2 separate regions of the Homo sapiens genome follow, and region 1 is linked to region 2. The links come from fine-mapping of genetic effects on gene expression. Tissue or cell type: T cells. Region 2 holds a variant in brackets; the other region holds the start of a gene. All regions are shown on one strand. Distances are between the middles of the regions.

The links. PIP is the estimated chance that this variant, and not a neighbour inherited with it, causes the effect.
Region 1: ARHGAP5 starts here. The variant in region 2 is fine-mapped to the expression of ARHGAP5 in T cells (TOPMed, PIP above 0.99). The same link has a PIP of 0.9 or more in blood mononuclear cells and whole blood.

The regions. Positions count from the first base shown.
Region 1 is chr14:32,076,189-32,078,945 of GRCh38, reverse strand. It overlaps ARHGAP5 (Rho GTPase activating protein 5), which reads right to left and starts at 1,642. Exons shown (of 7, transcript NM_001030055.2): 1 at 1,511-1,642. ARHGAP5-AS1 (ARHGAP5 antisense RNA 1 (head to head)) reads left to right here and starts at 2,247. Exons shown (of 1, transcript NR_027263.1): 1 at 2,247-2,757. RefSeq lists silencers at 1,289-1,583, 1,382-1,601, 1,962-2,221.
Region 2 is chr14:31,944,007-31,946,763 of GRCh38, reverse strand. LINC02313 (long intergenic non-protein coding RNA 2313) reads right to left here and starts at 1,911. Exons shown (of 2, transcript NR_146544.1): 1 at 1,656-1,911. RefSeq lists an enhancer at 1,430-2,629. The variant G/T (reference allele first, on the strand shown) is at 1,584.

The DNA of each region.
Region 1 (2,757 bases), 130 kb before region 2:
TACTCAAGAAACTATCTAGTAGGTTACCTAGACGGTTAGTAATACTTATCTACAAACACTGAATAAGAATACCGTTTTATCGTATTACAGTACAAATAAACTAGAATTGACAGCAAAAGGTTTCATTAACGTATTTTTAAACCAAACATTATTCCAAATGTCTAATCGCTGCATCTAGATGAAATTTTTGTTAGGAGAACCATTTTAAGTGGAAATGTAGAGCAAGCTCCCATGAAGTGAACGAGATCCTTCATGCGGATAAACACCACCTAACATTCTAACTGAATACTGGTTCTGGATTTAAGTGGAATTGACAAACTCGCCCCCCGCCCCTACCTGTAGAAAGCAACATAAGCAAGTACTAGTAAATACAGCGAAGCATTTTGCTGTTTTACACCTGAACATTTAAAAAAAAATTCAGTTTCCTGCCTATCACAAAGGAAAAAATAAATGATCGATAAGAATTTAAACTTAAAACGTAAGCACAAACCCATCTATATGCCTATCTTGCTCTATCTCAAAATATTTGAATTCCCATTTATTAAGCGATGGCCAAATCCGAATTTCTATCACATGGTAGAAGTATAAGCGTCTCCCCTACAACTTTTTCGGGATTTTACTAAACGGCCTAATAACAGTTTGCCCTTACTTCCGTGCACCTTTCAACCTCAGCTACACCCCGAGCCTCCAGCTCTCTTGCATTTCTAATAACGCTGAAGAGGGAGGGTGAGAGGGAGTATTTCTGTGTGGATAAGTGCGCGCGCGCTCCCGCGCGGCTCCCCACCCCCACCCCGATACTTTTCTTTAGTGGAAAGAGAGGAAGAATCTGGAGGTTATTCTAGCGAAAACTCAGTATCAAAGCCTCAACCCAGTCGCAGTCAGCCCATAGGACTCTGGGCTCTGGATGCGCAGTGCAACTTCTCATATCTTACTCCAAGCTTCAAAGCAGATGGAAAATTGGTGAAGAGAACCCAGGGAGGAGTCGAGGAGATGAGGGAAAGTGAAAGGGCCGATCCCCCCTACAAGGCGTTTAAGTTTGCAACCGAGACTGTGTTTCCGCGAATCTGCACCCGCCCCGTGTACCCTTTCCAGGTGGAACTCGTTAACAGCAGCAACCCGGCCAACGGACACCGCCACCTCCCCTCTCGACGGACCACCCGAGACTCGAGCAAGTGAGGCGGCGGGCGAGAGCGGACGCCTGGCGGGGCCGGCGATCCCCGGCCAGCATCAGGCCTCCGCCGACCCTGGCCCCGTCACCTGTGGAGAAAGCACCCCCTCCCCCGGCCTCTCTGCCCTTCACGCCGAACGTATCCCTAACGCTGCAGCTGCTGCCCGCCCGGCCTGCGAAAACCGAGCGCAGCGCCAGGCTCCCCTCGGCGGCCGCGGGGCCCCAGCCCCTTCAACTGGTTACAACCGGCAGCGGCGACCGAGCGGGGCAGCTAGCCGCAGGAGGGTCCCCGTCCGGGAGGGGGCAGGCAGGCTTGGAGGAGCGGGGTCCGCAAGGTCCTACCTAACAACGTCGGTCTCCTCCGTCTCCTCCTCAACGGCAGCGGCCCCGGCGGTGGCGGCGGCAGCGACATTCCTGGGGACCGCTCCCGCCGCCGCCGCCTCCTCCTCCACTCTCCGCTCGCCTCTCTTCCTCGGCGCGCTCACCGAGCGGCGCGTCCCTTCAGCCACCTCCCCCCGCCCTCCCCGACACACACGCCCCGAAACCCTGAGCCCCACGGCTCCCGCAGCCAGCTCACCCACCCTCCCTCCCTCCCTCCCCGCCACCAGCGGCGGCCCGTCCCTCCCCCCTTCCCCAGCGCCCGCCGCCGCGCCGGGCTCAGTAATGGCGGCCACTCGGGCTCCCTCGCGCTGACGGATTTCTCTCCCTCTCTCCCGAACTTTACCTCAGCATCTCTCCCGGCGCGCGCAGCCACACACCCGACCGGGGGCGGAGCGGCGGCGCGGCGGCGCAGCCTGGACGGGACGCGCGCGCGCGCGCGAACCCGCGCTGCCCTCCCCACAATCCCCCGTCCCCGCCCCTTCACCTCGCGACGCCTCCCGCGCCGCGCACCCGGCACGGCCCCGCCCCTGCCCTCGTCTCCCGGGAGCCTGGGAAGGCGCGAGCTATCCAGTCGGAGGGAGGGGGACGAGCGCGCGGGGCCGCGTCCTCGCTCGCGTCCCCGCTCCCTCCTCCCCTCTGCTTCTCCCTCCCCTCCACTCCCCCATTGGCTTCTACCCCTCCCCCTTCTTCCTCCGCCTCTCCCACCATTGGTTCCCTCCCCTACTCCATTCCTTCTCACCTTTTCCCTTTTACCCATTGGCGTGAGTATTTTTCCTCAGCTTCCCTCTTTCTCCGTATTCTGCTCCTCCTCAGTCCCATCCTCCACGCTTTGGAAGCTACTGCCTTACTGCCCGGAGCGCCGTCGTCCCCGAACCTCCCCTGCTTCTCCCTTTCCTTCTGTTCCGGTTTCTGGTCGTAACTCAAGAGCAAACCACCGTACTGCAAAGGAACCAGATATTGTGCTCGCGGTTCCAAACCGGGCATGGGCACCGAATGCTTCTCGATAAATCCCCTTATGGTCTCTGAGCATTAAAGAAAGCAAGGGAGGAAAACATGCGCCCAAGCTCGTTCGCAGGAACATGTTCGCGTGTCTGCGCCTGTGTGCGCAGCCAGTTTTCTGGCTGAGGATCGCTCGCCAACTACAGACATCACCCGCCCAGGACCCGGTGCCACACTCACCCAGAAGACGAAACTCCACAGGAGCGAGA
Region 2 (2,757 bases):
CAGACTGTTTCAGACCATGCCTTACCCCACCAACCAGGGTCCAGCTGCTGGGGCTCAGCTCTATCCTAGCTTGGGTCTCTGCACAGTGGCAGCTTTGGTGACCAATATACTCTGTAACTGCTGTAATTTAGGGGTGTCCCTGACTCTGAAGCCAACTGCAGAGGTTGAGAATAAGAAATAACTACATTTTCATGCATTCACTCACATTTCTCCTCCCAACCCACCACTCTAACTGTCTTTCTTTTAGCACAACTGTTGTAAATACATGATCCCCAGAACAGCAGCATCGCATCACCTGGGAACTCATTAGAAATGCAGATTACCAGGTACCATCCAGAAACTCTGAATCAGAAACTGTGCCCAGCAATCTATGCTTTAACAAGACCCTCCCCACGAGGACATTATTCTGATGAATTCTAATGTTTGAGAACCAGGGTCTTAGGGCACTGTTTCTGAAACTTTGTAGTGTATTAAAATCATGTGGGGTGCTTTAAAAAATTCCAATGCCCAGGCCACACCCCAGGTCAAGTAAATCAGGTTCTGTGGGGGTAGAACCCAGGCATCGGATGGATGTTTGGAAAACTCTCCACTGATTCCAATGTGCAGTCACAGTTGAGCCCCATTGCCTAAGGGTAAAGAACTCAAGAATATTAGTCGGCCATTTTCCCTATGGTGGAGAGCCTGTAGCTTTGAGCCCCGTAGAGAGAAGCCTTCCTGTGGGAGGAGAAAACAGTGTGTAAAATGAAGAAAGGGGCCAAACTGGGCATGCCTAAGCTTCGAAGGCCTCTTTCATTATAGGCTAGCTGCTGTAATGAAACAGGCAATTGCACCTGAGATTTTTCTGAAGTTGAAATGACCACGTGGAAAGGGAACAGCTTCTCTCCACAGTCCATCAAGAGGGGAGTGGCCAATGGGCCGCTTGGAGGACAAAGACCAGGGACACGCCCATTATCTGAGGCTTCAGGTATATTAAAATGAAGAAATCCCCAAATAGGGTTTCAAAAATTGTGATATACTATATTTTAGAAGTTTACATTTAATAAATTAAGGCTTTAACACGTGTAAGCTTTAAAAAAAAAACGCACAGGGTAATATAACCATCCTATTCACGGGATAATGGCAGGATTAATCTTAAAAATTCATGGGCCTGGTACCAAAATCAGGCATAAGTTTAAAGCTGATGATCATTTCCATCTTTTCAGTCTTATTAGCATATCTTCAGAGATAAATTTTTAAAAATCCAAATGTGAAGTCTCTGTGAGTGTGAGATCCCTGGATGAAAGGCCCTCCTTTGCCATGCCCCTGGGGCAGACTAAGAGGACCGCTGGAAAGAGATCCTAAGTGTGGCCCTGGAGCAGCTGTGAATGATTAGGTTGTGGGAAGACAACTGACATCTGGGTGCCTTGCGGCAGCCTGACCAGGGAGGTGGTGTCAGGGAAGCCAGAGCACCCCCCTTCCTCAGTGTGTTCCAGAGCAGTACAATACCTGCCTCCCTACACATAATGGATGCCTGCCCACCACCCTCTGTCCTCAGGCACACTTGGCTGCTGACAACAGGAAGTGAAACAGCCACACCCTCCTTT[G/T]ACCCTATTAAGGTAACTCCTAGTTTGATACAGAGGCTTCCGGGGAGGGAAAGAAATAAGGGAGACACTTACCTTGTGCAGCACCTGCAGTGCTGTTGGTTTATAAAAGCACGAAATCTTCTGTCCCAGAGGCTGGACTGGGCTCATGACTGCATGTGAGATTGTGCTTTGGGAAGAGAAAGCAATCCCAGACTGAACAACAATTTTCTGGTGGCAGGTGCATCCATGAGGAGCTGCAGTCGGTCCCAGCAGCATATGCTTTCTCCTCTGGGAGGGCAACTCGGAGACGTGCAGACTAACGGGACCACTGGCTGCAAGCCTCAGAAACCTCTCAGGAGGTCCCTGGCAAGGCCTGTGGTATCTGGGCAGTGCAGGCAGCCTGGGCACCATAGGACAAAGGGGCGGGGAGTGGGGCAGGGAAGAAACAGCACAGAGGAAACAGCACACCTTGTTCTCATTGACTCGGAGTCAATGGCTGCCCACAGACTCTATTTCCTGGAGATTCAAGCCTCACACTGTCCTGTCCTCTCCCCTGAGTAAGTCTTCCAGAGAGTAAGAGCCACACCCAGGCAGAGGTGGGTGAGGCTGGGGTTCAAAGTACAGAGCCAGCCCTTTTATCTCATAGGCAGAGGAAATCATCCACTGTAAACCCACAGCGTCCTCCACCAGGGCAGCGTTTGATTCCTCCGTCTCATATCTCCGCTTGCCTTCCCTGTGGGTCAGTAGTTCCTGAGTTTCTCTAGCCTATAGAAAACATGAGGAGGAGGAGGAGAGATGGAGGGGGAGGAGGAGGAGAAGAGAAGGGAAGAATGAGCACATGGACTGCCCAGCCCCAGCCCCATGGCACCAGCATGGTAAACACTTGGAGGGAGGCCAGCCGTCTGGCGCCTCCAGTCTTCCACATCACCCCAGCCAAGATTCAGACCTGTATATTCTGGGCTCTTTCTGCCCCATTTCACCCAGGCTTTAAATTACCCAGACTTGGGTCTGGGTTATTCTATCCAAAACTTTCCTCTGAAATCTAGATTGTGATGCAATGTATACGTTCTCTAAATCAGATTTCTGAGGACTAAATGCCAGACCGCGTGGCGTAGCAGTCTGGCTGCAAACCATTTCCGTCAGCCCAGCGGAGGAACGCACAACAAGGTGCTCATCCCCGCAGCCGTGCACAGGA